Linked DNA regions of Homo sapiens. The protein of the gene in region 1 purifies or fractionates together with the protein of each later gene. This does not show direct contact. Each region holds a gene or a part of one and is shown in the gene's direction. Other genes may lie near its edges. The genes, in order: ACTR3, ARPC5L, ARPC1A and CST4.

What was found.
Region 2: the proteins of ACTR3 (region 1) and ARPC5L purify together in Homo sapiens (affinity purification with mass spectrometry; 7 studies listed by BioGRID and IntAct, with this or other methods). This does not show direct contact.
Region 3: the proteins of ACTR3 (region 1) and ARPC1A purify together in Homo sapiens (affinity purification with mass spectrometry; 9 studies listed by BioGRID and IntAct, with this or other methods). This does not show direct contact.
Region 4: the proteins of ACTR3 (region 1) and CST4 purify together in Homo sapiens (affinity purification with mass spectrometry; 2 studies listed by BioGRID and IntAct, with this or other methods). This does not show direct contact.

What each region holds. Positions count from the first base shown.
Region 1 is NC_000002.12:113,955,801-113,963,939, forward strand, and holds the end of ACTR3 (actin-related protein 3), read left to right. Parts: intron 1-1,559; coding exon 1,560-1,655; 3' UTR 1,656-6,796; downstream 6,797-8,139. UniProt on the Homo sapiens protein: ATP-binding component of the Arp2/3 complex, a multiprotein complex that mediates actin polymerization upon stimulation by nucleation-promoting factor (NPF).
Region 2 is NC_000009.12:124,871,735-124,878,977, forward strand, and holds the end of ARPC5L (actin-related protein 2/3 complex subunit 5-like protein), read left to right. Parts: exon of another isoform or gene 1-1,932; coding exon of another isoform or gene 1,933-1,952; exon of another isoform or gene 1,953-1,957; coding exon 1,958-2,030; intron 2,031-3,240; coding exon 3,241-3,417; intron 3,418-5,143; coding exon 5,144-5,206; 3' UTR 5,207-5,999; downstream 6,000-7,243. UniProt on the Homo sapiens protein: May function as component of the Arp2/3 complex which is involved in regulation of actin polymerization and together with an activating nucleation-promoting factor (NPF) mediates the formation of branched actin networks.
Region 3 is NC_000007.14:99,342,532-99,350,670, forward strand, and holds part of ARPC1A (actin-related protein 2/3 complex subunit 1A), read left to right. Parts: intron 1-1,761; coding exon 1,762-1,984; intron 1,985-6,320; coding exon 6,321-6,428; intron 6,429-8,139. UniProt on the Homo sapiens protein: Probably functions as a component of the Arp2/3 complex which is involved in regulation of actin polymerization and together with an activating nucleation-promoting factor (NPF) mediates the formation of branched actin networks.
Region 4 is NC_000020.11:23,685,442-23,693,591, reverse strand, and holds CST4 (cystatin-S precursor), read left to right. Parts: upstream 1-4,553; 5' UTR 4,554-4,622; coding exon 4,623-4,850; intron 4,851-6,390; coding exon 6,391-6,504; intron 6,505-7,614; coding exon 7,615-7,698; 3' UTR 7,699-7,952; downstream 7,953-8,150. UniProt on the Homo sapiens protein: This protein strongly inhibits papain and ficin, partially inhibits stem bromelain and bovine cathepsin C, but does not inhibit porcine cathepsin B or clostripain. Papain is inhibited non-competitively.

The sequences.
Region 1 (8,139 bases):
GCAATGGCATGATCTTGGCTCACTGCAACCTCCACCTCCTGGGTTAAAGTGATTCTCCTGCCTCAGCCTCCCAAGTAGCTGGGACTACAGGCATGCGTCACCACACCTGGCTAATTTTGCATTTTTAGCAGAGACTGGGTTTCATCATGTTGGCTAGGTTACTCTTGAACTCCTGACCTTGGGATCTGCCCACCTTGGCCTCCCAAAGCAAAGTGTTGGGTTTACAGGTGTGAGCCACTGCTCCTGGCCTTTATTATTATTATTATTTTTTATTGAGATGAGGTCTTACTATGTTGGGCCAGGCTGGTCTCAAACTCTTGGGCTCAAGTGATCCTTCCACCTCAGCCTCCCAAAGAGCGCTGAGTTTACAGGTGTGAGCTGCTGCGCCTGGCTGAAGCTTATGTTTAAATTTATATATATATATTTAAGATAGAAGAGTCCATCAATACTTGGAGAAGAACAAAGCAAATTCCTTTAAATTGTATCTCAAAATAATAGGAAACTTTGTATATATGTGTTTGTAGTATTTTAAAAATTGGAAGTAATTTAAATTTAATTGGAAGTCATTTGAATTTAATTTTTTTTTTTTTTTTAGCTTGCTAGACATTATTTTAGAGTGACCATTTTATACTATGTTTTAAAGTTTATCTGTAGGGAAAGTTCTGTTAAAACTGGTAATTTAGTCATCAGAAGGTCCTTGTTTGTTCTGTTTAAGTATTTAAAAACATTAAGGTAAAAGTTAAGCTTCATTGCATAGAAAGTATGATGTTTTACACTGAATAAAGGGAATTATTCTAAGAATCCTGTCCCCAAATTAAAATGTCTTTAAAGCCCCCTAAAAAGGTGTTCTAGTGTTCTAATACCATTAACCTAGGAAGTATTGGTGCTTTGTTCTGGTAGTGCATGCAATATTAAAATGAAGGAGCTTTTATCTGAATTATTGAATAACTGTACAACTTTGGATTTAAAACCATTTCCAACATAAGAGGTGAAAGTTATTTTTTTCCTCAATTTTAGTCTTCTTCAATTGGGCCATATAACCTAGTTGAGTTTGTGACTTTGCCTTGAGAAATGAGGTAACACAGCATGGAACAGTCTATCTTTTCCAGACCTTGAATGAGGAAGGCAAATGATCTAGACATTTCTTAGAACTAGACGAAAAATAGTCATAGCATGACTAGGAGTAGTTTTATCTGTAGTTAGGCGAATGCCGCTTCTTTACATTATTGGTGCAATGAAAGTATGGGAAAGTCTCAACAGAACAGACTGGACATTTGAGAACCTTCCATTTTTCAAAATTTCAGAATCCTCGCAGCAGGTGTGTGAGACAAGGATTGGGGACAGGAGTTAATTGCTCTTTTGGAGTTCCGATAAAGATTTATAGCTGATTTTAAGTCATGGCTGCTAGAATTTCTAAGCTTTCATGCCATGAATGGACTAATAATAAACATTTTAGACTTAACATCTATTTTAAAGCATCACTCTTAAAGTTTATTTCAATATACCTTCAAGATGGTAGATTTTTGACCCTTATAAAAATACATATTTTTTGTTTTCAGCCTGAGTTCTACCAAGTATGCCACACCAAAAAGGATTATGAAGAAATTGGACCTAGCATTTGTCGTCACAATCCAGTGTTTGGAGTCATGTCGTAAAATTGGCTTCATAGTTATTGGGGTTAGGGAGGTGGGGAAGAGATAATCTTTCTGATTACCTGTTTTGTCTGGATGGCTGGTTTTGAGGTTTTAAACCTGACTTGAAATAGTAACACCAAACATGATTATACAGGAATATTTTAATAAGTGTATCACCATGCAGATGTAGAAGAGAGCGAAAGTGATTGTGTTTTTCTTTAGATTGAATATTTGAATCTTATGTGTAACAAAAAGAAGTGGGTTTTAGTTCTTTCTGTGCCCTGATATTTTGTATATTAATGAATTATCCAAGATTCGATGGGATTTATCAGTGTGTAGATAGCTCTATAATGCTTGAATTGTACACTTCTAAGTGTGCAGTGCAAGAGCTTGTTTATATTTCATACTTTTTATACTTTGAGGAAAAAAAGTCAAAGAAAAATTGTATTTGAGGGAAAAAACCATGACCAAGTAAAGGATAAATTCAAAAAATAGCCTCATGAGACTTGGCATACACACTCGTGGGATTCCAGTTATTATGGAGTGCTTCCATCCCTCTCCACCCCTTCCCCCCAAAAGGTTTTCTTTGCAAGTGCTTTTGGAACTAAGAGCTAGTATCTTGGATTAACTGATGCCTGCTAGTGCTTTCTGATTACTCGCATTCTGTTTCTTGCTTTAAAAGAAGAGTAAAGACAAGAGTGTTGGACCAGTATTGCAGTTCTGTAGTGTCATTTCTTATAAAAAACAAAACAACAACAATAATTTATCAAAATTGGCATATTTAAAGCCTAACATTCTAATAAAGGCACAAATTTCTTTTTAATACTTGTTTCAGCCTCTTTAATCTCTTTATAAGTTAACTAATAAATCTATTTTCTTCAGACTTCTGCAATAGTTCTTTAAAATCACAACAGTTAGCAAGCTGACTTTTGTAATGTGCTCAATACAAATACTTGTGAACTTTTAATATGTTGAGTGCTTTCATTTTGATAACTGGATCTCCATTTGATATTTTCATTTGTATAACTCATTTGCAGTCTGAAAATTTTTTTTAGTGCCAGTCCCTGAACATATCATTGAAAGTTAATTTTCTTTGCATTTTAAAATATCTGGATTATGAAGAAAAAGTGATGAAAATAAATTAAAACTGAATTACCTTTTCTAATGTTTTTTTTTTTTAAGTAATGTAATTCTATTTTGTTTTTATGTATGTGATATCTGTTTCTGTTGAGATTTGGGAGTTATTGAAATCTCTGTAATGTGTATGGTAGAAAATTTCTTGTGACCTTAAAATTTTACCAGTTATTTATAGAAAGAGAAAATGGGAAATGTTTTATAGGCTTTTTACTAGCAGTATCAGTGAACACTTGAACTCCATTATTCATGAAAATAACACGTTAGGATTGGAATACGTCTATTCAAAAGTGAAAGAATATAAAGTGTTTAGTTTTTTGTTTTTACTCTAAAGATAGAATTGGGGAGTAAACTTCAGTTTTTGTTTAGAGTGGATCTGAATATTTAAAATCCTATAATAATTTTTGTGAATCTTCATTCTTTGAGTATGGGATTGTAAAAGACAAACTATATCCTACAGTAGTATCATCATCAGTATCAAAGGTCTCCTTTTTTTACTTGGAAAAGTAATTCACAAACATTATAAAAATACTATTCAAACAGTACCAAAGAGTAGATTAGCAAAAGTAAGTTTTTTTCCCTAGCCTGTCTCATTTTTCCATCATTACACAGACTACTTGGAATGTCTTAGATGTCCTTGTATTGTAATTTTCTGTGTAGGTAGAAATAAATGTAGCTTTCTTATTTTACACAAATAGGAACTTACTGTATATACTGTTCTGCACTTTGCTTTTATTAAAGATCTTTTGATAAAGAACTATATTGATAAGCAGTAAAGATGTCATGCTCCTGGCCCAATAAAATATTGTTAGCATTGTCATAAATATGTCTTTTCCACCGGCGATGGTTGGGTAGTTAAGTGAATAAGCTAGAAAGACATGTTTATAAAGCTATTTGATGACAATCTCAGGCATATTTATACAGAGATGTTCTTAACTGTTTGCTACAAAAACATGAAGATCAAAAACTTTCTTGAAGCTTACGCTTAACTTATTTGGGGAAACAAAACTCCAGCCCTTCTTGTGTATGTTCTGATATCCCTTTGCTCTACTTTTAGAGGAGTGAACCCTAATAGGATGGTAGCAGCATTCTTGTTTCTTTATATCTCTCCTCTGTGATTGTATACCGTTTTTTCAACTTAAAGCAACTTCAGCTGGAAATATGTAGAGGTTGGCCAAGGTGAACTAAATAGTCTGTAACATTGATTAGATATCAAGCAACGTGAGCATGGTAGCAAAAGCACTAACTGAAGCCAGTGATTTAATTTTTAATTCTGATTCTGATAATTGATGATATAGCTCCTCGAACTTTGTTTTTTGTTAAAACTTGGAAAATATATTTGTATTATTTTGGACAAATTATTTGAACTCTCTGGACCTTGATTCAATTTATATATAAGGTAAAGGCATTATACTGGATTATCCTGCAATTTCTTTGAGTTGTTAGAATATAATGTAGCTTATTAATAGCAATATTAGCAGTGTAGTAGATTCTGACTGCAAAACCTAGCCTTTTCTATTGATTCATTAGTGGTAGTAAAGGTATTATCTGATTTATCCTTTTTAATAGGCAGTGCTTTGATCAAGTGGGAAATAGTAATGGACAAATAAAATCAATGATCATTATCTAACTTGATGCCTGCTTTTCAAAAAGTGAGCAAATTTCACATCTTCACCCTTAGACATTAATTCATGGCACCTACTATAAGTACTCATCCTCTTCTTACCTATCTTCTTTTCTATAGGAGATAAAGTGGTTATTCAGACCCCCCAATACAATTTTTTGGTTTGTTTTCACAGCTACTTAAAAGATTAAAATAACTATTCTTGCAGATATTTCTAGGAATATTTTTAGAAATAATATGAAATACAGGGATAATAGGCCAATTATGATCTTTATTTTTAATTTCTACAGAAAAGTACTAGAGAATATATCTATAGAAACTTCTTTCAGATAACCCTAAAGATGATACTAGAATGTTTATAAAATTATTGAGAAGATTATTTGTGTTATAAAGCTTATTTGTACCATAGTAAAGGATGTTTTTGTTCCTCTTCATTCTGGGCTAATCTGTCAATACTGAAGTCCAGTCTTTTCCCCCTTTTCTTACCAGCTCAACCTTGATTCCTGTGACCCATTCTTTCTGATCTTTCGTAGTTCATAGTCACCAGGCATGAGTACCTTGGATAGCCCTCTGAAGTCTGTTACCACCCAGATTTCCAACTCGGGTTAATTGGTACTAATTCTATTAGCTGGTATAAATAATCCAAAATCTGTGCAGACTCTGGGAGCAAAATGTTCTACTCAGTTTGGAATACTGTGCCTTAAAATATATTTCATTGTAACAGCACCTTGTATATATAGTTGGCCAAGGACAGAGTTGTTACAAGTTACGTGGAACTTTCATAGCAAATCTTGACAGTAAATACCTTGTTCTTGTATTAGGTCTATATCCTGAATTGACCTTTAGCAAGAATCTTTAGATCTGCTGGAGGGCTGGGATGGCTTTTGGACTTCAGTGAAAAAGAATTTCTGCTACTCATTGTTGATAACGCTTCAGTACTGTATAAATGTTTATCCTTTTCCACGTAATTTGTTTTCTATGATATGAGAACTTTTATTATAATTTGCCTCAGTCTTGATAGAATCTTAACAAAAATAAAATCTGTGGTCGTCTGAGGTATTCTCCATGCTATAACCCAGTTTAGCTGATGCATTTGGAGCTTGGGTGCTGAAATTAAATATAACCTATTTGAGTTAAGGATTTATTACTAGTGCTCCAGTGGTCACAGGAACAATAAAAAAGGAACAACGATAGAAATACGTGATCTAGGAAAGAAGGCAACTGAAAAACCTGAAAGAAAAAAAATGAAAGATTAAAAGTATACGATATTCTATTTTGATTTAGCAATTACTTGTTTTCTAGTGTTCTGTCAATTTTTGGTGACTTTTATAATTACATTAAAACTAAGATGCTGAATTAAAATAAAGTTTCTCTTTTATTCAAGCACCAACATTCACTTATATTACCTATATATTGCATCAAGTTTTGAGCCTTCAATCCCAGAAGCATTGATTGACTGTCTACTGTGGTTCAAGTACTGTGCATAAAGATGAATAAATATTCTGTCCTTGGCTTAGTCTAATAGTAAAGGCACTCTTAGAGGAGGGACAAATATTTTGCCTAGATAAGATTTGAGAGATAGTAAGTGCGGAATTTCTCTTCATAAAAATGGTAGTGTTAGTTGTTTAGAGGGAGAAGTCCAGCTATGTAAGGTGAAAGTGGGGCTTATAAAAGTGGATCTATTGTTTAAAAATTAGTACTTTGCTCCTAAAATTTTTACCTAAGTGTTACATCCAACAACAGATGAAAGTAATTCGACAGTAGCATCTGCTTTATTCATTTCATATTTCCAGTGCCTGACATATTGCTTGGCATATAGTAGTTTAGTGGATGTGTTTGATGAATGAATGAGTAAAAATTATTTTTCATGTTAAAATAAAACTTTGAATTACATGAGTATACAACTTTTGTTCCTTCAAAATACCCATATTTGTCAAATATGACCGAATTACGACTTTTTTTCTGTTCCACTAGTTTCTACCTTAGAAGTGACATTCTGCGTAAGGTAGTGGGGGATTACTAAGTGATCATGACTTTTCTGAAGCAGGTCTTAAATAATTATCTAAGCCTTCAGTCATTTCAAAATCTCTGTAGTGTAAATGATCACAGGCTCTAAATCAGATTGTTGTACAAGGTAATTGACATGTCCTGAAATGTAACATTCAACATTAACAGTAGAAACAGGCCTCATTTCTCCCTCTGGCTTTTATTGATCAATTTTGATATTGTCCAGATCCCATGTTAAACCACTTGATTTAGAGATGACTTAATTCTAAACTTCCTCCATTTTTAATTAATAAGATTCAAGGTTGCAGTAAATTGTTAATCTTATTTGGAATTATATTAGAAAGTCGATATCGGAATTGGAACCACACATCTTTTTCTTATTGTGGGTACATGGGATCTTTCCCAAATAAATTCCTGAGCAACAAGAAAATCTGAGACTTGTTTTAAATGCTAAAATGATTAGTTGGAATAATGTATACATTCATGAGATGACTAAAGCACTAGTGGGGTAGTTTCTACTGCAGTAGACTGATTTTTCTTAGCCCAAACCTTGAAAGATGAATGTTTTAGTAGATGGAGAGTAGGTGGGGATGATATTTTAGATATGGCAGAAGCAACTTGAGTTACAGCAATTGGGGAGGGGATTAGAATATTGTGATTAGGAGAAGTGAGGAGAAGAGTGGGAGAGAAGACTGAAGGATATCTGACACCTTCAAACACACCCTCAAACACAAACATTGGCTAAAAAAGTTGATGCAGTTCAGGGTGAAATCACACACATGATTGACATAAATAACATTGTGGAAAAGTGACTTTGCAAAGACCACACAGGTAGTTGCAGAATAGAACTTACTGGTTATAATTTTTTTGATATTTTACTGAATAGCATATGGTTTATTAAATTTTTTTCAAAATTAATTTGGCAACATTTCTTAGCTTCTCTGACTCATTCTATTGGGAAAGCTGATAGCAAGATTCCTGTGCTAGACTACTAGAGGGAGGTATCAGATGACCAAGTCATGTCTGATACTATAGTTACCAGATAGTTACCAGGCTAATGTGCTGAACTAAGGAAGGAGCCTAAAACTCAGCAGTCTTTTTGAGATTGGATTGGACTTTATGAATAGGCAATGAGCTCTTAAAAACGACATTCCATATACAGAAAAACTATGGGGATTTCAGACTGCCTAATTTAGCTTCTCCACGGGGCATACTTGAGGTCGTTCACATTTTGGCTATGTATCTCCACATTGGTGCTAAGTTTGTGTACCTCGTTTCTGATTTCACTAATGCTGAAAGTTCAACTTGCCAGTGACCTAAGTGGATCTTTTATGAATTAGAAAGTACCTCACTTGGCTTTTGAAGACTGGTAAAACATTTTTAGGCTACAAATAAAAGGGAAGTTTGTAATGATGTTATAAAATACAATGCTTGGCATGTGGCAGATGCTTAAACATTTGTTGAATAAAGTTATCTTCCTTTTAAGATGGTCCATTGAAAAAATGGAGCAGCCGTTATATGTCTATATATGTTTTAATGACCTCAAGCTCAGAGATCTGCTAGTGATCTCACCTTTAGATAACATCTGAGTTGAATGTCTGTGGAGTCCCCTGCCACTGGTATATCTCAAAAGAAATAGCATTATTTGGTCTGGGCAGTACTGTCTTTGTCTATTTATCTATCTTCACCTCTATAAAGTGGGAGGTTGCAACTCTGTGGGCAGTATTCCTCAGGGCACTA
Region 2 (7,243 bases), on another chromosome or scaffold:
CAGTGGTTGTGAGCGATTTTGCACCCTTCCCCTCCACCCCCAGGAAACTGGAGACATTTTGATGGTTACAGCTTGGGGATGCCACTGGAATCCAGTGGGCAGAGGCCTATGACACACAGCTAAGATCCCACGTCAGAGAATCCTGGGTCCACAGTGTCAGTTGTGCCGTGATTGAGGAAGATCTAGAGGAGATCAAGGGCTGGGCAGGATTCCCTCAGCACCACAGCCTGTTCTCTGAAAAGGCCTAAAGCCAGCCAAGTATGACAGCCGGCTTCACAAATGATAGGTGACTTCAGGGAGGTCCTCCCTGCGCCCCACATCTCCCAACTGCTGAAGGCCCTCACCCATCAATGGGCCGAGTGATTGCTGGACGCGTGGTGCTGAGTTAACGCCACAGCAGTAGCTTTTTGCCCCCGTGGACTAGTTTTATACCTGCCCTTCCCCATCCATCATTTGAATGATGTCATTTGTTAGTTGTGCCAGGTTTACATGAAGAGCAAGTGAGCCTATGTTTTCTGTTCAGCCTATGGGATCCTGCTTATTGCTTTGGGGACACCACATTAGAAAAGAGTTACAAGGGCTGGGCGCGGTGGCTCACACCTGTAATCCCAGCACTTTGGGGAGGCCGAGGCGGACAGATCACGAGGTCAGGAGATCGAGACCATCCTGGCTAACACAGTGAAACCCCGCCTCTACTAAAAATACAAAAAAAATTAGCTGGGCGTGCTGGCGGGCGCCTGTCGTCCCAGCTACTCAGGAGGCTGAGGCAGGAGAATGGCATGAACCTGGGAGGCGGAGCTTGCAGTGAGGCAATATTGCGCCACTGCACTCCAGCCTGGGCGACAGAGCGAGACTCCGTCTCAAAAAAAAAAAGGAGTTACAAAGTAGAGGTTATCAGTGGCTGATATCAGGCTGGCCTTGTTTGGATGGGGAAAAGGAACTCCAGAACTGAAAGACAGAGGGACTGGACTGCCTCTTGAGTGTGGAAGGTGGATCAGAGCCAAGCAGGGAGCTGGGGAACCAGCGCTGGGAGTGGCTTGCCTGGTGGCGCAGACCCAGCTCACTCAAGATGGATCTCATACTGGGGAAGCCAGGAGATTCAGCTCTGCTCCGAAGGCCCTTCCTGTCTGCACGTGGGTATCACTGCATGAAGAGGAGTAGAGACCCGATTGGGCAGAAGCCATTCCTTGTTCTATTTTTGAAGCTTTTTGGCTGAAGCCAGTGTTTCATACGAGGAAATGAAAGTTGGCTGATGTAATTCAGTTTAAAATAGGTGTCACCTTTGGGGACCTAACCCAGATTGTAATTTTCTTTTGCATGCTGGGTATTCAGAACTCAGCAAAGAATGTGTTGTCAGGATTGCAACTGAGGTTGGGGGGTAAGGGTGGAGACTGGCTCATTGTTGGCAAAAGCTTCTGTTAGATTGATAAACTCTTTCCAGGTAACAGTTGGGACCTCATTGATCCCGATAGATCTTAGAAGTTCTAGCACATCTTAATTTCCTTAATAGTTTAATTGATGAAGAGCATTGATGAAGAGTTAGGAGGTCTCCCTTTGTACCTACATTTTCCGCTTTTTTAGAATGAGAAGATGAGAACGACCTCCAGTTCACATGTACGGGTGCTGTGAGGATCCAGTAGGGGAGATACAGTGCTCAGCACCAAGCAGGTGCAAGTGAGCACAATCCAATTTTACATCAAGTTACCCCTCCAGGACAGTTGCTTTGACGTGGAAGGTAGAGAGGGAGTTGAAAGGAGGGTTTGCATGGTTGGCAGAGGTGCCCTGCAGCCTCCCTGTGCAGGCTGTAAACCGTCTCTGCCCCCCTGGAAGCCGTGGAAGGTGGGTGGTATGGATGAGATCCCATCTGACTCTGTTCCTGAGCTGTTTCTGAAGTGAGCTTGTTCATGACGGCATGGATGTGCTTGAGCCTAGCTATCCTTAACTGGTGGTGATGCACAGGGGACATGCTTCGGGCATTCCATGCAGCCTTGCGGAACTCTCCCGTCAACACCAAGAATCAAGCTGTGAAGGTAAAGGGGTGGCGCTGCGGCTCTGCTGGGTGCTGTTGGGACCAGGGCTGTGGGTGTCTGCCCAGTGCGAGTGTGAGCTTTCATCCACATCAGAGGGAGTGAGTTGGCACTGGGCGGGGCTTCCAGGGAAGCCTCCTGGCGCTCCCTAGGTGGTGAGGCTTCTCTGACATCAACGCTGTCAGCGTTTATATACGAGAACCTCCCCACAGAAGCCTTCACTCCTGCTCACGGCCTCGTAGGCTGAGAAGTCAGCCTGGCCCTGGCTGATGAGGAAAATGGATGAATTCGCTCACCTGTGGTGCTTATGCTCCCACAGACTGTTAAATAGGCTTTGTCTGCCTGAGGATTTTAAGTACCCGTACGCTTTCCTACCTTCTAAAAACTAAATTGTGCTTACTGCATCACCAAGTCTAAAATTTGGTTCAGAGAAAGGGGTCTCCCTGCAGCTGGGATTCTGGCAGCTGTGACAGCATCTTGATGTCACCAGTGGCTGCACCTTCACAGAGTTCTGGGGAATGGCCCCACCCTTCTGGGTGTGAACACAAGAGGGACGCTGCAGCCGAGTCAACCTGGTTTTATTTTTATTTTTTAATAGTCCACCACCATTGTGGAGTATAATAAGGCCTTATTGGTGTCATCTAAAATAGTGATGGGCTGGGTGCCATGGTTTATGCCTGTAATCCCAGCACTTTGGGAGGCAGGAGGATCGCTTGAGCTCAGGAGTTTGAGACCAGCCTGGGCAACATAGCGAGACTTTGTCTGTATTAAAAAATAAAAAAAATAATTAGCTGGGCATGGTGGCATGTGCCTGTAGCCCTAACTGAGGTGGGAGGATTGCTTGAGCCTGGGAGAGGCTGCAGTGAGCTGAGATTGCACCACTGCACTCTAGCTCAGGCAACAGAGCGAGACCCTGCCCCTCCCTCCCTCTCTCCCTCTTTTCTCTTCTCTCTCTCTCTCTCTCTCAGAGTTGATACTTGTCCTAGTAAACTACTTACTCCCCCAAAATAAGTAGGGTAACTTGTTGGCATAAATAAAAGATACTTTGAAATTTAAATCCACAAAAGACGTTCTAACCCACTTATTTTAACCATCCTGGACGAATTAGAAACTGGGCAGTGTTTCTGGTGATCTGTGTCCTTGCTTTGGTGTGGGGCATGGCATGGCGGTGCCTTCGCAGCTCTGGGACTCACTTGCTCTTTTTCGTCTGCAGGAGCGAGCCCAGGGCGTGGTGCTGAAAGTGCTCACAAACTTCAAGAGCAGTGAGATTGAGCAGGCTGTGCAGTCACTGGACAGAAACGGCGTTGACTTGTTAATGAAGTACATTTATAAAGGCTTTGAGAAGCCCACAGAAAATAGCAGCGCAGTGTTACTCCAGTGGCACGAAAAGGTATGTGAACGCTGCCACGCGCCCCAGTGAGCCACCTGGCTTGCCTTGGGGTTCGATCAGCAGGCCAGATTTTCCAGAACAAACGTAGGACGGTCTGATAGGCGTGTGGGGTCAGAGGACGAGCCCCAACCTGGGACATGTCATCACTTCCCTCTCCCAAGGAAGCTCCTGGTAGGGACCTGCTGTCTGTGGTAATTGCAGTTACTTTTTTGCTTTTTAGCTGCCGATTTATGTCAGGCAAGACAGGGTGCCCTTGGTACAGGACATGTGGGCAGATAACATGGCATAGTAAGGTGGTCAGGGAGTCTAGGTAGGAAGGGGGCCTGCTGGTTGGTTGGGGCTTCATGATACTTGCAGTGGTGGAGGCAGCTGTTGGGGGTTCTTAGAAATAGAGTCCTCCAGCCAGCTCTAAGGGCTTCCTGCCCTGGCCTCAGCCTTAGCAGGCCAGAGTGAGCAGTGGGCAGAAACCTTGACCTCACTTAATATGGCCTTCGTCCAGGTGAAGCAGAAAGAGCTGTGTCTGCCCTTCGCTTGGGTCCGTGTGAGAGCAAGGCCTTTGGCAAGCCTGTGTCGTGCCTGTACCACTGGGGCTGCCTCCCACACCCTCCCCTGCACACCCCTAGTGCCGCAGTAAGCACGCCCACCATTAAAGCAGACCAGGAGTTACTAACCTGCCTGCCTTCCTCAGAGGCTCAGTGTTGAGTTGGAAGAGAGGGGTTTTACAGTGGGCCAGTCCTTAAGGTGGTGTGGGTGCTGGGCTGTGGTTGTGGCCTTAGGTCTGCTGGCGGGTGTGCTGCACCTCCTTGGCCTCCCCTCTCCTGGGCTCAAGGAAGTAAACAAGTCCTCTGTATGATGGGGAGGCCAGGACCTCTCGTCCCTTTAAGGCAGCTTGGTGCCTGCCAGTCACCTCAGCGGGCGGCAGTCAGTGGGCTTGTGTGCATCTGTAAACTCAGCACTTTGGGAGGCTGAGGCAGGAGGATTGCTGGAGCCCAGGAGTTCAAGAACAGCCCAGGCAATGTAGTGAGAACCCATCTCTACAAAAAAATAAACTAGGCTGGGTGCGGTGGGCTCACGCCTGTAATCCCAGCATTTTGGGAGACGGAGGCAGGCGGATGACCTGAGGTCAGGAGCTCAAGACCAGCCTGGGCAACATGGTGAAACCCCGTCTCTACTAAAAATACAAAAATTAGCCGGGGGTGGTGGCGGGCGCCTGTAATCCCAGCTGCTCGGGAGGCTGAGGCAGGAGAAGCGCTTGAACTGGGGAGGCAGGGTTGCAGTGAGCCGAGATCGTGCCATTGCACTCCAGCCTGGGTGACAAGAGCGAAACTCCGTCTCAAAAAAAATAAATTAGCCGGGCCTGGTGGTGCACACCTGTGGTCCCAGCTACTCAGGAGGATGGCTTCAACCCAGGACATCAAGGCTGTGCAGTGAGCTGTGATCTGGGCAACAGAGTGAGACCCCATCTCAAAAGGGAAGCTCGAGGGCTCTGCTTTGTGTGCTGGTGACAGTGTTCTCAAGCCAGTTCTGCCCAAGAGCCAACAGCTCTCGGGACCCCACGGCTCCAGGACAGGGCTCCTTCCCTAGAATGTGCTCTATCTCAGGAATCCTCTTTCGAGGATCTGTGACGGGATCTAGGTCAGGGAATGTCCCCCCTGTCTCTGGCAAGCCAGGCTCCCCTTGGCCAGCCAGGTCTCATCTGACACGTTTTCTTTTCCTGCCCCCACAGGCCTTAGCAGTAGGAGGACTAGGCTCCATTATAAGAGTTCTTACAGCAAGAAAGACTGTTTAAAAAAAATAAAAAGACTCATGTTACCTTGAGAAGAATTCTGGATGCCCAGGCTGGTGAAGAAGGGATTGACAATGGACCATCTTCCTAGGAACTCCCAAGTAAACTATTTCAGGACATGTATCTGCTGAAATGTATTTTATTTTCAAGGTGGAGGGGAAAATCGTCTGTTTCCTAAATCCTGTTTAGGATCTGATAGTCTATGCCTTTGTCTCCGAGTACTGCAGAACTGACATTTTGACGGTCTACCAGCGTGGCGGCTGGTGTTGGTCAGATGCACCTGTGTGCACTGGGGGAGGGATGGTTTGGGCAGGTGCAGATCCAAGGGCTGTGGTAAACGGGAGAGCTTGTGTTTTTGAAGTGGAAAAAAACCCAAGAGTTTGTACAGACATCCTGTCTTCCCAGAGAAGGTGGACACTCTTGGGCTCATTGTAAAGTGCCTGCTGCATCAATAAAGCTCTTGGCTTATTAGTCTATACATTGCGGTGTGTTTCGTGTATGTAAAAAAAAATGGTAATGAATGGGATGGTAATGAATGAGAGTTCAGTTGTTGTTCCGGAAACCCGATGTGGAAGGAGTAGACCTGTGTCCCTGTTGAGCCACCCCTGGGAGCGAGCATGGCAATCCACAGGCCCTCTGCCACAGGACGCCAGCCTCGGCCTCAGAGCTGCCGGCTGCTGCAGAGAGGTGTTTGCTGAATAAACTATTTATTGTTTCTTATTCCTTTGATTTGTATGTAATTAATTTTGGAGCTTATTTAATTAATTTAATAAAGTGCCAAACATTTAATAATTGATCTAGGCTTTAAAAGTCTTCAGTTTGTGGGATTGCACTTGGAATCTTTTGAGGGTGGGGCCTCAGATGTGCCTGGTCACGTCTCCTGATGCTGGGTTGGCTGTGCTGCAGAATCACTGCTGCATGGACAAGCTTTCTTTAAAGAACTAAACGTCAGAAATGGGGAGCAATCAATCAGCAAATAGATGGTATAATTTGGTTCCCCATAACCAATAACAGAGCTTCTCTGAAGGGCAAAAATGCTTTTCTTTCCTTTTCAGCACATGTGACTGCAGCTTGCATTCTGTTAAAGGTTAGGGCCCCATTCACACTCCAGAAGCTCCTCTGGGTCATACAGCCTTTGGATACAGACTTTGACCAAAGTGACACAGTCCTCCCCTCCACAGCTCTCCCCTCCTCAGTCCCTCTTCAGAACCACTGCAATTCTTGGGGGGGGTAGAATGGGGCTGTTGGCTTCATTAAATTACGTATATTTATTCACCCAAATCCAGTCTGGGAAGGTTCTTTCTGAAAGAAAGACAAACATTCTCTAGCCCTTGAGGTTGGCCTTGGAGTGTTAAATATGAGACACAAAATACCAGATTTAATGAGTCAAAGAAATACTGACACACCAAACTAGTAAAATCCATTGTAGTTGCATCTGGATTGAAGAGCTTTAATCAAAAAGTGTATTGCACCACAGATGAATTTGCTACAGCAGTTTTCAAGAATACAATCCCTATTTACAACATGGAAGGAGAGCTCAAGATCCATCGCTCGTATAAAGGGCTATAGATACCGTCGCTAACACAGAAAGTTTTATACAAGTCAAAGTGCATTAAATCACTTAGAATATTTATTCCACTCTTCCTCTTAAAGCTGAAGGAAATTCAACATGCAGGAGGAAAGCCTAGTCAGTGAAGCCTCCCTAAAGTGAGTACAGACCTAGGAACGGGCCCCACAGCTACACCTGAAACTGCCGAGGAGTGGGGCCTGGGGTGCGTGTGGGACCAGTTCAATGGCTGGAGAAGCCACGGAGGCAGCGGATGGGCTTCTGTGGAAATGTAGCTGCCTTTGGCTGGCTGTGAGCTACCCAGTCTTAGAGATTCTTTCCTGGAACAGTTGAAAAAGGAAATCCTACTTTGAAAAAAGGCTACCTCTTACCCATCAAACTTGCAGAACAGAAGAGACTCCTGTTTCGTGTTCCCACCAGGTAAATGGAAATTCGTGTTCTAAACAAGGGATAACTGTCTGCAAGGAGGAGCC
Region 3 (8,139 bases), on another chromosome or scaffold:
GAGACCCTGTCTCAAAAAAAAAAATCTAATAAAGAGGACAGCAAGCAAAATTATCTTGTAATGAATAAATAAAATAAACATCACTTAGAACACATTCTCATATTTTCTTCCCTTCAGTGGTACAAAAAATTGAGCTGATATTTCATGTGGGTAAATGAATGAATAAACTAAACTCTTCATACTACTTTTTTTTTTTTTTTTTTTTTTTTGAGACACAGTCTCGCTGTGTCACCCAGGCTGGAGTGCAGTGGTGCGATCTCGGCTCACTGTAAGCTCCGCCTCCCGGGTTCACACCATTCTCCTGCCTCAGCCTCCTAAGTAGCTGGGACTACACGCGCCTGTCACCACGCCCGGCTAATTTTTTCCATTTTTAATAGGGACAGGGTTTCACCGTGTTAGCCAGGATAGTCTCGATCTCCTAACCTCGTGATCCGCCTGCCTCGGCCTCCCAAAGAGCCACCGCGCCCGGCCTAACTCTTCAGTCACTATGACTTATGGGTAATTGAGGCTCAGAGGTATATTTGTCTTTTTTCCATATAAATGTCAAGAATGCTAATTATTAATTTTTAGAGAGAGATCTGTAATAAATATTTATTAGTAATATTTCTGTACTTTTTAATGTGAAATTATATTTATAGAAAATACCTCATCAAGGCCAGGCACTGTGGCTCATGCCTATAATCCCAGCACTTTGGAGGCTGAGACAGGCAGATCGCCTGAAGTCAGGAGTTCGAGACCAGCCTGGTCAACATGGTGAAACCCCGTCTCTACTAAAAATACAAAAATTAGCCGGGCATGGTGGCATCTGCCTGTAATCCCAGCTACTCGGGAGGCTGAGGCAGGAGAATCGCTTGAACCCGGGAGGCGGAGGTTGCAGTGAGCTGAGATCGTGCCATTGTACTCCACCCTGGGCTGCAAGAGTGAAACTCCATCTCAAAAAAAAAAAAGAAAGAAAAGAAAAGAAAATACCTCATCAATAAGTGTTAAATGAGTCATGGTGAATTTTGCTCTTGGTATATAAGAAACTGACCTTGAGTCTTGGTATATGAAAAACTGACCTTGACTTTGGGATTCTTCACAGAGGTACCAGATAAGTAAAGTCTCATCAAATAAGAAAAATAAACCTTACATTCAGATACATATTTAGGTATCTTCCTGGTTTAGATGCAAAGAAACAAGGATTCTTTCACAGGACCTGCATCATGTAGAAAAGGTTTTCAGTATGGTTCAACTGGCAGTGACTTTCAGAAGAATATATGATGAATCACAATATATAGTTCCCCCTCTTTACACTAAAGATTATTTTTATTTACCCTGTATGCTGTTTTAGTTGAATGCCATGTAGCAGACTGTTGGTTAATATCATAGAATGAGGTGTGTTAATGAATACAGTTATTTTCACACACACAAAAATCTAATAAAGAGGAAAGAAAGAAGTAATGAATCTTCAGATCTTTAGAAGTCTTAGAAATGTGTGAATGGGTGGAAAGAATGGCCCCGTTTAGTTTTGTAAAGTCTGTAATTATAAAACAGCTCTTCTACATGACCTCATAGACAATCCCGAGTCCCAGACGCTTTGCAGAGAAGCATCCTTGCCTTTCCTTGAGGCGGTGATCAGGACATAGATAGTGGGAAGGATGTGCCTGGGAGGAAGGTCCCAAGACCACGTCTCATCCTGGCATGCCAGTGCCACCCACCTGCCTGTGCCGCAGTTGTTTGTCATTGACTGGGCAAAGCAGATGACCCATGTCTCACTTGCAGGTATTGACTGGGCTCCCAAGAGCGACCGCATTGTCACTTGTGGGGCAGACCGCAATGCCTATGTCTGGAGTCAGAAAGATGGTGTTTGGAAGCCAACCCTGGTGATCCTGAGAATTAATCGCGCAGCTACTTTTGTGAAGTGGTCCCCCCTAGAGAACAAATTTGCTGTGGGAAGTGGAGCACGACTCATTTCTGTTTGTTACTTTGAGTCTGAAAATGACTGGTGAGTGACATCTGAATTTTTTCTATCCCTCTCTATAGAATTTACATTTGCACTGCTGTGTGAGGGCTCACCATAACTCCAGTTTTTCTCATCCGGAGTTGTGTGGTTTTTTCTCTGAAATTCTCGATTCTGTCTGAGCATTTTCCCTTCTCATGTGCATGTTAAGTTAAATCGCACGTTTTTTATATTAACATAGAGCTATTGTGTCCATGTTCTGATCGCCTAACTTGTTTCTTCTGCAAGATGCTATTACTGTTCTCACTCTATACTGCGCAAATTGCTGTTTTCTTACTCTCATTTACAAATAATAACATTGAAAGAGTCTCCGTTCCCTGAGGAATATTTTTTCTTTTTTTTTTTTTTTCACAGGATATCTATGTAGGATTCCTACAGATAACAATGTTCTTTTTTTTTTTTTTTTTTTTTTTTTTTTTGAGACAGAGTCTTACTCTGTTGCCCAGGCTGGATGGAGCGCAGTGACACGATCATGGCTCACTGCAACGTCCGCCCCCTGGTTCAAGCAATTCTCCTGCCTCAGCCTCCTGAGTAGCTGGGATTACAGTCACCTGCCATCGTGCCCGGCTAATTTTTGTAGTTTTAGTAGAGACAAGGTTTCACCATCTTGGCCAGGCTGGTCATGAACTCCTGACCTCATGATCCACCGCCTCGGCCTCCCAAAGTGCTGGGATTACAGGCGTGAGCCACCACGCCTGGTCAATGTTCCTTCTTTAAAGCTTATTTGCCAACCAAATCTGTGTCTTGGTGTAATATTTTACTTGTTTAAACTGTTGAAGTCAAAACTCACCAGAATCTTAGAAGTCTAATCAGCTATTGCACATTTTTTAAATTACTTCTTGCTGACCCAGTCAAAACACAGGTTTATTTTATGGCCAAAACTTATTTTAACTACTCCTTCCTGTTTGTTTTGATAAGGAAACAATTATTCTCCAGCCTGGCCAAGATGGTGAAACCCCATCTCTACTAAAAATACAAAAATTAGCCAGGCACAGTGGCAGGTACCTGTAATCCCACCTACTTGGGAGGAAGCAGGAGAATTACTTGAACTCGGAGGGCAGAGGTTGCAGTGAGCCAAGATCGTGCCACTGCACTCCAGCCTGGGCGGCAAAGTGAGATTCTATCTCAAAAAAAAAAAAAATTATTTTTCTGTGTGGCATGTGTTCAGCATGACTGGTAAATATCCTTCAACGTAAAGTTGTCATTTACTACTAAACTGGCAGTGTTTGTGTTTCTACTAAAAATAGCAGAGTATACATGACTCTTTGTAGCTGTTTTGTTATTTGTATTCTGCTGAAATTGAAAGAAGGGGATTATCATGTTACCTTTGTAATTTAGTAAAACTTCAGAAATTTTATTCTTCAAAAAGAGATTGGGAATTTGCGGTAAAATTGAGTTATGGGCCAGGTACAGTGGCTCATGCCTGTAACCCCAGCACTTTGGGAGGCCGAGGCAGGTGGATCACCTGAGGTCAGGAGTTCGAGACCAGCCTGACCAACACGGATAAACCCTGTCTCTACTAAAAATACAAAAAAATTAACGGGGTGTGGTGGTGCATGCCTGTAATCCCAGCTACCTGGGAGGCTGAGGCAGGAGAATCTCTTGAACCCAGTAGGCAGAGGTTGCGGTGAGCCGAGATCACGCCATTGCACTCCAGCCTGGGCATCAAGAGTGAAACTCCGTCTCAAAAAAAAAAAAAAAAATTGAGTTACGAATTTGAAACATACATTTTTCTTTCAAATGTGAAATCAAGGCTAACAAAATGTTACCTGCTAGAAACTATTTGGAAGTTTCATTGTAATGAGATAGGAAACTAACTTCATTAATATTCTCTCAAGGCTAAACTTTATGTCAGCTGGTACTCCTTGCAATCTTACAAATTTCTACAGGAAACTTTTCTTCCAAGTTAAGCTTCAACCTCAGTAATTGTTTACATTTTTATTCGTTGAGAATTAGTGTCAAGTATAGGTAAATTGGACTTTATTATGGTACAAGGTATTGTCTTTGAACAAGCTGTATGTTTAGGGCAGTTTCTCAGCTGTAGAACAATTATTTCATATTTCATAGGAGTACTTTAAAACAACTTCTCAGAAGTTTATAATTCAGCCATATGAACTAATTATTTTGCTTGCCATCTTTTCCTTAATTAAAAAAATTACATTATAAAGGCCAGGCACGGTAGCTCACGCCTGCAATCCCAGCACTTTGCGAGGCCAAGGCAGGCGGATCACGAAGTCAAGAGTTCGAAACCATCCTGGCCAACATGGAGAAACCCCATCTCTACTAAAAATACAAAATATTAGCCAGGTGTGGTGGTGCATGCCTATAATCCCAGCTACTTGGGAGTCTGAGGCAGGAGAATCGCTTGAACCAGGGAGGTAGAGGTTGCAATGAGCCGAGACCATGCCACTGCACTCCAGCCTGGGCAACAGAGCAAGACTCTGTCTCAAAAAATATGTATACATTATGAAACAATTCGAAATACTGTCTTTTTCTCCTTTTTTAGAGACTTTGTGGGGGATTTTGGTTTTTTATTTTATTTATTTATTTATTTTTTGAGACAGGGTTTCTCTCTGTCACCCAGTCTGGAGTACAGTGGTACAAACACGGCTCACTGCAGTCTCCAACTCCTGGGATCCAGCAGTCTTGCCACTTCAGCCTCCCAAGTAGTTGGGACTACAGGTTTGCACCACCACACCTGGCTAATTTTTTGATTACTTGTGGAGACAGGTTCTCACTTTTCTTGCCCAGGCTGATCTCAAATTCCTGTACTCAAGCAATCCTTCTGCTTTGGTCTTCCAAAGTGCTGGGAGTATAGTTGCAAGCCTCTGCACCTGGCTGTCTTTTTCAGAATGAACTTCTTCAGACAGGATACTAAGAAAGTGATTCTGTAGCCAGGCGTGGTGGCTCATGCCTGTAATCCTAGCACTTTGGGAGGCTAAGGCAGGCAGATCACCTGAGACCAGGAGTTTGAGACCAGCCTGGCCAACATGGTGAAAGCTAATCTCCTCTAAAATTACAAAAATTAGCCGGGCGTGGTGGCGTGAGCCTATAATCCCAGCTATCGGGAGGCTGAGGCACAAGAATTGCTTGAACACAGGAGGCAGAGGTTGCAGTGAGCTGACATTGCGCCACTGCACTCCAGCCTGGATGACAGAGTAAGACTCTGTCTCAAAAAAATAAAAAATAAATAAATAAAAGAAAGTGATTCTTGCTTGACCCCGGGAGGTGGAGGTTGCGGTGAGCTGAGATCACGCCATTGCACTCCAGCCTGGACAACAAGAGCGAAACTCCATCTCAAAAAAAAAAAAAAAAGAAAGAAAGTGATTCTATAGAAAGGTAATTTAGCATTGAAGGAAAGGCATTGGCTCAATATTTAGTCTCCCAACTGTTGAGCAACCAGACGTGATTGGTTTTTAAACAGCAGTTTGGGGGCAGAAATGAATTAGTTAAGCCAAAATACTGACTGGTCCTAGACATAAATCATCTTTTTTGGATGGTGCTAGCGAATTAGAGGCTAATCCCCAACATGAGGTTCTTCTAATTTCTTGGTTGTGATTTTTCAGTGAAAGAAATTAAAAAGAATTTGCAGATTCGTGGAGACTTGGGAAGGATATTAAGCTGTCTTACAACCCCAAATTCACCAAAAATTCAGCAAATCACTGAATATTCATAATAAAAATTGAAGTATTTTCAAACTTCAGTTTTTATCTCAGAGGTTAACGTCCTATGTAATCCGAAATCTCACGAAAACATAACTGAGTTAATCAATATCTATGCTTACTAATGAGGACTGCTGAAAACCAGCTGTTGTGCTGAGAACATCAGGGCCAGGAGTGGAGAAGGCCTGTTCATGGTTCTTTTCCTTTCTGTCCTTTAGCAATGCACCTTGTCAGCTGGGCGTAGTGGCTCATGCCTGTAATCCCAGCACTTTGGGAGGCTGAGGCCGGTAGATCACTTGAGCCCCAGAGTTTGAGACCAGCCTGGGCAACATGGAGAAATCTCATCTCTACAAAAAATACAAAAATTAGCCAGTCTCAGATCATAACCTGGTATCAAAAAACCTTGTCTCTGGCAGAAGGCCTGGTGACCGACAGAAGAACGTTGAATGCTCTGTTACTTTTCTATAGAATCTTTTTTTATAGAAACCTATCTGAAAAAGTTTATTCTGAAAAAAATAATATTCTGAATTGTTTTATAATTTTTTTTTAAATTAAGGAAAAGTGTGGCCTACTTAGGTATTTTCACCTGACATACATTTGTAGGTCATTTGGGGATGCTGGTTGAGTGGATAAACTGAAACAGTTTTCCCCTCTCATAGGTGGGTGAGCAAGCACATTAAAAAGCCGATTCGCTCCACAGTCCTCAGCTTGGATTGGCATCCCAACAACGTTTTGCTGGCAGCAGGATCATGTGACTTCAAATGCAGGTGGGAACCAGTGAGAACTGATAAACTTGAGCCGTGCATTCTTCATCCTTCAACAAATAATTTTAGGTTCTCTTTCTTTGTTTTTTGTTTTGTTGTGGTTGTTGTTGTTTTGAGACAGGGTCTCACTCTCACCCAGGCTGGAGTGCAGTGGCACCATCATAGCTCACTGCAGCCTCCAATTCCTGGGCTCAAGCGATCCTCCAGCCTCAGCCTCCAGAGTAGTTGGGACTACAGGTATATGCCACCACACCTGGCTAATTTTTTTAAAATTGTCTTTATTCTTTGTAGAGACGGGGTCTTGCTACATTGCCCAGGTTGGTCTTGAACTCCTGGCCTCAAGTGATCCTCCCTCCTTGGCCTCCTGAAGTGCTGGGATTACAGGCATGAGCCAGTGTGCCTGGCCTGTAAGTTTCCTTTTCTTTGCAAGGTACTGCGCTAGGCACTGTGAGGGACTCAAAAATGAGGCCTGGTGCTGTGGCTCACACCTGTAATCCCAGCACTTTGGGAGGCTGAGGTGGGCGGATCACCTGAGGTTGGAAGTTCAAGACCAACTTGGCCAACATGGTGAAACCCCGTGTCTACTAAAAATACAAAAGAGGCCGGGCGCAGTAGCTCACGCCCGTAATCCCAGCACTTTGGGAGGCTGAGGTGGGCGGATCACAAGGTCAGGAGATCGAGACCATCCTGGCTAACACAGTGAAACCCCGTCTCTACTAAAAAAATACAAAAAATTAGCCGGGCGTGGTGGCGGGTGCCTGTAGTCCCAGCTACTCGGGAGGCTGAGGCAGGAGAATGGTGTGAACTCGGGAGGCGGAGCTTGCAGTGAGCCGAGATCACACCACTGCACTCCAGCCTGGGCGACAGAGCGAGACTCTGTCTCAAAATAAATAAATAAATAAAAGTTAGCCTGGTGTGGTCACAAATGCCTGTAATCCCAGCTACTTGGGAGGCTAGGGCATGAGAATCATTTGAACCGGGGAGGTGGAGGTTGCAGTGAGCTGAAATCACACCACTGCACTCCAGCCTGGGCGACAGAGTAAGACTCCATCTCAAAAAACAAACAAAAACAAAACAAAAAAATGGAAGCAGTTTGTGATCCAGAAAAGGAGCTCAAGCATGGTGATTAAAAGAACAAGTTCATAAGTCACTGAGGTAAAAAGAAATCCACTTGGAAGTGGGGTAGGAGGGAGAGGCAAGGGTGGGGCCAGCGAAGATTTCCTTAAGTGTAAGAATATCTATGGTTTAGAGGGGAGGATTAGCATGTACTCTCTCTGTCTCTGTCTCTGTCTCTTTCTTACCATCTCTTTCTGTGTCTCCCTTTCTCCCTGTCTTTCTTGACAACAGTATTTTTCTCATTTCATATTCCAGGCAGCAGTCTCTGCAAATTCCAAAGTGAAACAATTAATAAAACATAGCTAAACAGTGCGCTGCTAAGCTGTTATTGTGCTGTTCTTTCAGTTAAAGCTTTTTATTTTGTCATTAGCTTGAAGCTAGAAGAAATGCAGCCACTTTGCTAAGAACTTTAAGGATCATACCATGGAATTCCATGTAATTGCTTTTTAAAGTTGTTCTTTCTCAAGAATATGCTTTTTTCCCTTTAGCTGAAAGGAAAGCAAAGCAAATAAATGTTGCTTTGTGTTGACTATATGGTAGGTTGGGAGATGAGGTGCACTTTTTTTTTTTTTTTTTTTTTTTTTTTTTTTTGAGACAA
Region 4 (8,150 bases), on another chromosome or scaffold:
AGGCAGGGCCACAGGAGGGAGCAGGGCTGTCCTGATGGCCTCTGGCTCCAGCTCCAGCACTCAGTGATTGAGTTGAACAGGATTCCAAGCAGGAAGAGGAACCATTCTCCAGGGTCACTGCACTTTGGTAAAGGAATTGATATTTAAGGTTACACAAACAGTGACAGGGAAGTCCCAGCAGTGACCCAAACAGGATAAGAAAGTCTGACCACCCAGAGATGTCGAGGAGATGACTCACCTCCTCAGAGTCATCTGTTTTCCTCATGGCCAGGCCTCTGCAGGCTGCAGCCCAGGGACTCAGACGGATCCCTGGCTGCAGCAACCAGCAGCCCGAGTTCCCGGAGGCCGCCCCTACTCCCCTCCATTCATATGTGGTTCTTCAGTCAGTGAATCTGCACTGACAAACGCTCTTTTTGCAAAATAAATGTTAACTTGCACTCCAGAACCATGAATACCATTCACGTGCTAGTCCCTGAGAGAAAGGATTCTCCTTCTCCCCATGGGGTGCAAAACAATCAGACCTGACACTGGGCTCTGCCCTCTCTCGCCTTTCCTAGCCAGGGCTACCAGCAGGCTTCCCCATGAGTATCACAGTTTCCTAATGATGTGGAAGAGCCAAATGTGTTACCAACATGGGCCCACAGTTTAGAAGCATCCACATGTTCTAGCAGAACCAAATGTGTTACCAACACTGGCTCATAGTTTAGAAGCATCCACGTGTCCACCATGTGTGAGGAGAGGGAGAAAAGAAGGAGGGATGGAGTGAAAGAGACGAGCTTGACCCCAGAGAATTCCAGGCACTCCATAAAGGAGACTCCTGGCCTTCCCATTTGAGAAGTCACCAAATCCTGTGGCTGCTCAGTCCCAGCTCCTACCATAGACCAAACTGTTAGTTGCTCAAAACCCAGATGTGCAGAATCTCAACTCTTGGCCAGCTTGTCCTCACCACTTGAACCTTTAGGTGATGCTTTCTGAGCTTGGCCATTTGTTTATTATAGTATTGTTTAGTGTTCACTTATTATTGGTCATTTATTGCAGAGAACTTCTGCCTGTCACCTAATTTCTCATCCTACTAATTCAGATAATCGGATCAGTAGTCACCATGCAGCCTAGGGGAACACAGCTTTCTCTTTCGTCACCTGGCAGAAGGAAAACATGCCCCCTCCTGGGCAGCTGGACTCCTCCAGGTTACATGGGTGCTGGAGGCCCCAAGCTTGTTCCTCAGTCCATGGTTGCTATCTGGCCCCCTCCTAGTGTGTCCTTAAAACTGTGGACTATAGAAATCAAAGTCTTCTGTCATTTTTTTTGAGATAGGGGTTTCACTGTGTTACACAGGCTGAAATTGAACTTCTAGACTCAAGGAATCTTCCTGACTCACTCTCCTAATTAGCTAGGATTACATGTGCACCATCACACCTGGCTACTCCATCATTTTCAAACATGTTTATACACCGCTACTGAAGTCCGCTCATCTCTGCTGGTCTGAAATCCCAGAAACTATGCTTTAGAAAGTAGCCTCTTTCTCCAGATGCACGACAGACACAACATTTACCTAAGGTCATCAAATATCTGGAGCAGCTGGCCAGCTACCTCAACCTGCCACTTCCTATAACTCCATACTGGACATCGCACTTGTACCTCCTCCTAAGAGCAACCTACATTGGTATCTTTCCTACTGGGATTAGAGAGTTTGCTGCATCAGGACAGCTGACCCTCCCTGCAGTGCATGCCAGAGTCCTGACAGAAGATGACCACTGGTGGTGTCATCACATATGGGGCACAGGTCAGCACTCTGGCCTCCCTCCCTCACACTCCACCCACCAGCACATTCTCGCTATTTGGGTTACCTGCATCTCCTTTCTGATGATTAAAAAAAAAAAAAAAAAAAAAACAAGAGGATTGCTTGACTTTCAGTTTACCCTTTGCACAGCATGTATGTCTTCCTGAGTCTGGACTCCCAGCTGTCCCAGGAAGGTGGGAGACACAGAGGAGAACTAACTCCTACCCTTTGGAGATGACCATTCTGCTCACAAACACCTGGTAAGGGACTTCCCTCTCTTTCCCTTCTCTGGGAATCTCTCCCCATTTCCTGTCTAACTAGGAGGCATATGTAAAGCTCTGTTTGAAGACCTTCCCTCCCTCACCCAGCAGTAAACACCATGGGGACACCTGCTGTATCTGCCAGGCTTCATGGCTATTCTAGGGGTGCTGGATTCACAGTGGGGTGAGATGGTCACCAGGACTCAGGTAACAAGGTTCCCTGTCGTAATACTGAACATGAGCACCCATAAGTAATATGGTTCCTGCTGCCAGGTTCCTGCTGATCCATCCCCAGACATGTCCGAGCCCAGGATGACTCTTGGCCAGCTTGTCCTCATCACTTGCACCTTTACGTGATGCTTTCTGCGCTTGGTCATTTGTTTATTATAGTATTGTTTAGTGTTCTAAACAGGTCTGGGCTGACACTGGCCAACCCTCACCTCCACCACTCCCAAGACAGTCCTCTGGGTGTCCTGCTAAGGCCCAGGGTTTCCTGGAGTTTCTGGCCAAGCCTGCCACCTCCCCATAAGGGCATTTGCCACAGGGTCACCTTCAGGCATGGAGGGTGGGGTTGAGAGAACAACGAGAGCAGCTGTCTGTTCAGAGCCTCCTTCCACCCTCCCCACTCCTGGAGACACATTCCAGCCCAGGCCCACAGCATCCCAAGCTGGGGGCTTTGTCAGCCCACAGGACACCCAACTGACCACATCCTCTCAGTCTGTGGAGAAGGAGAACTCACAGTCTTGGCAATGAAGCAACTCAGGTGCCGCTGGAAAGCCACACTGAGCAAAGGATGAAGACACATCAGGGCTCGCTCTGCAGGACTCCATTCCTGGGAAGCTCAAGGACAGGCGACAAAGGTGTCTACAGGGCCGGATGGGGGCTGCCAGGGTGGGGCGGGCACGAGGGTGGCTGGAGAGGCAGGAGGATACCGTCTGGGGCAAGGCAGATGTCACAGGTCTGGACAAAGTGGTAACACAAGTGTATGCATTTATGAAATCCCCCAGATTGGGCACATACTATTAGGCATTTTATTGTATGTAAATTCTACCTCATTTAAGGCAATTTTTAAAATGCCACGTGAGTCTTCCAAGGAGTGCACAGAGGAAAGGAGCCTGAAGCATGGCTGCCTAGGAGAGAAGCAAGAGAGGCCTGTGGGTTCCCACATTCATCCCGTGGCTGCTGCTCCCTCTCCTGACACCCCCACTGCCTCACAGGGGTCTCCGTGCACCTTCCACCGGTCCTCACCCACAGTTACCGTGAGACTCCAGGTGGTTTCCTCCCTTGCTCACATCCCCTCCAGGAGCTTCCTCTTCCTGGAGCAGGCATGTCCCAACCCCACCTCAGGGCCTTTGCACTGGCTGTTCCCCGCTGCCTGGGGCTGCTCAACCTCTCCAGTCTCATAGAGACCACCCTGACCAGGGTCCAGTGGTCTCTCTCTAGCCCCTGTTCTATTTCACTTCCAACAGAGTGAGTATAACTCCCTGATCCTAATTGTTGATCGTAACCTACCATCCTCTACACACACTGTGTAGGAATTTACTGTGCAGTTCCACAGCCACCAGCCACATGTGCCACAGGACACTTGAAATGGGGCCAGTCCAAAATGATTCCTGGGCTAAGTGTAAAAAATACACAGGGAATTTCAAAGATTTACAAAACCAAAAAAAAAAAACACACATAAACGATCTCATTAATAATTGTTCCCGTTAGCTGAAATAATATTGTGGCTATATTAGGTTAAATAAATATTTTAAACATTACTTTCACCCATTTATTCTCATCTTTTAAAATGCATCTACTAGAAATTTTCAAATGCTTGTGGGTTCATGTCACATCTCTGTGGGCAGCAGCTCTGCAATGTCACCTCTATGGCTCATCATCCAGGTTCCGTCTTCAAGCCCTAGACCTCCTGGCATGGGCAGTAACTGGTGATAGGTTTGTTTATTGAATAATGAGTTATGAAAACAGAAGCCAGTGACCTTTTCCAAAAAGGTTAATTCCCTTAAATTTGGCAAAGAAATTCTCCATATTAGGGTGTGGACAGGGTCTTCTGGAACCTTCTGAAATAACCTCTCTGTTCCAGAGATTCAGAGACCGTGACCAAGTGCTCCTGGAAGCCTCTGATATCTGAAGACCCCGGGAGGCCAAGCCCTGTATTTTTCCCCTTTCTGAGCAAACAGGAAGTCACATTGCTTTCACAGTCAAAGGACCAGTGTCACCTCTGTGGAGACCTGGGTGACTCAAGCTTGGGAGCACTGGGGAAGAGAGGCATGGCTCAGGGAGGCTGCAGTGAGGACTGGAGTGGGGAGGAGGGGGAGATGGAGGAGGAGGCCTGGGAGGGGCAGGGGGAACTTAGGCAGGGAGGGAGCTTGTAGTGGTGGGGGAGTGAAAAGAGAGATGGAGAAAGAGGGGATGGGCAGAAAGAGGAGGAGGAGTCAGGGGCAGGGCATGGAGGTGGGTGGGGCTGGGCTGCCAAAGCAGGATAAATGCACACCTGCCTGCTGGTCTGGGCTCCCTGCCTCGGGCTCTCACCCTCCTCTCCTGCAGCTCCAGCTTTGTGCTCTGCCTCTGAGGAGACCATGGCCCGGCCTCTGTGTACCCTGCTACTCCTGATGGCTACCCTGGCTGGGGCTCTGGCCTCGAGCTCCAAGGAGGAGAATAGGATAATCCCAGGTGGCATCTATGATGCAGACCTCAATGATGAGTGGGTACAGCGTGCCCTTCACTTCGCCATCAGCGAGTACAACAAGGCCACCGAAGATGAGTACTACAGACGCCCGCTGCAGGTGCTGCGAGCCAGGGAGCAGGTGGGTGCTGCCTCCACCCGAGGGGTCCTGAGCCCTAGCCTGGTTTGTTGCCGGACCCCCAAGAGCATTCCAAGCAAATCAACACTGACACATTCATGATCTAATGCTCAGATTCATTCAGCTTTCTCTGACTCTCCGCTGATGCCCTTCATGCCTAAGCATGCTCCCGGTCCATGCACTGCAGACAGTTAAAGGAAGTGCTGCAGCTTCCTTTAACCTGCAGCAGCTGCTGTGTCTGTACCATGACCGTGGCATTTCCCAGCGTCCAGCAGGTGTGGATGGAGACTGTGCTGACTCTGGGTGGGCTTGATGCTGCTCAGGATGAGATCCAGGCGGTGAGGCTCATTCTCCTCCCTGAGTCCTCTCCTCAGGGGCCACATGGGAACCTGGCTCCCTGTTCTGCAGAGCCCTTCTTCCTTCCCCAAGTCATGCCCTTGGGCACAGCCCCTTAGGGCTAGTGGCCTTCACCCTCAGGCAGGCTGACCCACCCCTGCAGGCCAGGATGGCTGAGTCCCTGCTGGGGTGGAGCACGCCTGGCCCTGCCTCTACGAGCTGATGCAGAGTTAGACCTCAGCCAGATGAGGACAGCAGTCACCCAGCAGAGCAGAGGAGGGGTTAGGTCCAGAGTGAGCTTCAGCAGGGCAACTGGGCCCAGCTTGACCTGCATCCCATGGCAGAGCAGCAAATAGTGACACAGCCTTTAGAGCTCCTCCACCTTCTAGAAATTCAAAGGAATCCAGACCAGTCCCGTTTCTCCTCCTACAGCTGTCAGCTGGAGCCCTCACCCTGCACAGGAGGTGCACTCCCTGGTGCCATGGTCCCCGCTGGCCTGCATCTCCCTCTTAAGCATGACAGTAACTTGGAGTGAAGCACAGGGCATTGCAGACCATCAGACCTGGAAGCCTATTTTATACATGGGTAAACTGATACTCGAGGGATCTCAGCAGTTCCTCCTGGTTCCAAAGAGTCCCTCATCCCAGGTTTCTCCACAGCTCTGCCACGTAGTGTCTGGGAGAGGCCCTGTGCAGGGAAAGGGTTCAATTATAATCTGCAATTGTAAGACACTCAGGTGTGCTGCTGACTTGAGAAACGTATCTTGAACCTCACACTTGAAATGGTGGCATCTGGGCGGCCCCATTGACCCAAAATATCTGTGTGTGTGAAGCATCTCATTTCCTACTCTAAGTGAAGTAATAAATCTAGGTTAAATGGAGGGAATAAGATTTTCGTGAGTTAGCTGAAATTTTGTCATCAGACAGCCTTCCTAGAAAAGAGTCAGTGTTCCCTCACCCCTGAGCCACAGGTAGCAGAATTCAATGAATCCTCTTACCCAGCACAGAGAAAACGATGTTTAAGAGCGGGCATGAGGCTCAGCACCCTGCCAGCTGACAGGAAGAGGGGGCTTGTGTGCCTTGTGTTGACATGTGGGCAGCTCACGAAGCCCCCAAGCAAGTCCAGTGACTCAGCCACAGTGAAGTGCCTGTGAGTGCATGAACTGATGGGGGCGCTGTCCGTGCTTCCTGTTTTCTCCTGTGTGCAGACCTTTGGGGGGGTGAATTACTTCTTCGACGTAGAGGTGGGCCGCACCATATGTACCAAGTCCCAGCCCAACTTGGACACCTGTGCCTTCCATGAACAGCCAGAACTGCAGAAGGTACGTTCCTGATGCGGGTCCCGGGCCAGTCATGCACTGCAGAGGGGTGCGTATGTGTCAGCCTCTGTCCTACCCATGTTTGGACGGTGTGTGTGTGCAGGTGGGTATGTGGGGAGCCGTGTATGCATGGATGTGTACGTGTTCATGTACTTATGGGGGGGTGTGCATGTAGGTGTGCATGTGGAAAGGTGCACGTGTGTACACACATGTGCCAGTGTGTGCGGGTAGGTGTATGGAAGCATGTGTGCCTGTGTGTGGGTGTGTGGCGGAAGTATGGGGGTTTGTACATAGATCCATGGGGATGAGGGGTCCAAGTGAGTTTACGTAGTTGCCTATGTGTGTGCAGATGGGGTGGTGAGGGAGGGGGTGATGTGTTTGATTTGCTAGGAAGGCTTTAGCTTGGGAATGGTTACTAGAAGGTCAACTGCCTGCTTTGGGGTGTTGCCTGTTGGACAGGAAGAATCACCTGCGGGGCTGGGTGCTGGGCAGGGAGAAGGGGATCTGTCTAATCCCAGCCTCAGGCACCTGCATGCAGCCAAAGCCACAATCAGATTAGTGGGACCTAGAGGCCTGTTAGCTGGGAAGCCCTGGACCTGCCCGGCTCACCCAACACCAGCCTCTCCAAGAACCTGCTGGTTCTTGTGAGGTCTCCACTCAGGGGAGAGCGGCACTCCCCTTGTTGCCCTTGACCCATGCCCCAGCTCTTTGAGGGGGAGTTGCCCTGCCCTGGGTTCTTCCCTCTGGCCCCTCTTAGTGCTGGCCTGGGTGCTGGAGGTGGAAGGAGCTGGGGGAACTGAGCCACCTCCCCATGTCCTGCACCCTTGGGGCTCCCGAGGCCTTGCCCAGGCTGCTCCTCACAGGGCTGTGATGGGACAGGACACTGCAGGCTGGGGTGGGGGCCCAATGCCACCTGGTGACTTGGAGCCTTGGGAGGGGTAATGGTACAGTCACTACTCATTCTAGTTCAGTGCTCTGGGACTCAGCAGGGGTGGGTGAGGGTGCAGTGTCTCACCTCCATCCTCCTCACCCAGGCTGTGACATCTCATGCCTGGGCATCTTCCCCTTTAACTGTAACCCACACTGATTGGCCCTCTCTCTTCCCTTTCACAGAAACAGTTGTGCTCTTTCGAGATCTACGAAGTTCCCTGGGAGGACAGAATGTCCCTGGTGAATTCCAGGTGTCAAGAAGCCTAGGGGTCTGTGCCAGGCCAGTCACACCGACCACCACCCACTCCCACCCACTGTAGTGCTCCCACCCCTGGACTGGTGGCCCCCACCCTGCGGGAGGCCTCCCCATGTGCCTGTGCCAAGAGACAGACAGAGAAGGCTGCAGGAGTCCTTTGTTGCTCAGCAGGGCGCTCTGCCCTCCCTCCTTCCTTCTTGCTTCTAATAGACCTGGTACATGGTACACACACCCCCACCTCCTGCAATTAAACAGTAGCATCGCCTCCCTCTGAGTTCTTGGCTGTCTGGGGATGTGCACACAGGCAGAGTTTCTGCAGTTCCTTTATGAAGCCTCCTTGTCCTGGTGGTGTGGAGATCACAGGAGTACCTGGGAGCTGATGCGGCCACAGCAAGGCCATCAGGGGAGCTGCTGCCACTTTTGGAGACCTCAGCTTCAGAACAGGGAGAGAGCAGCCAGGGGC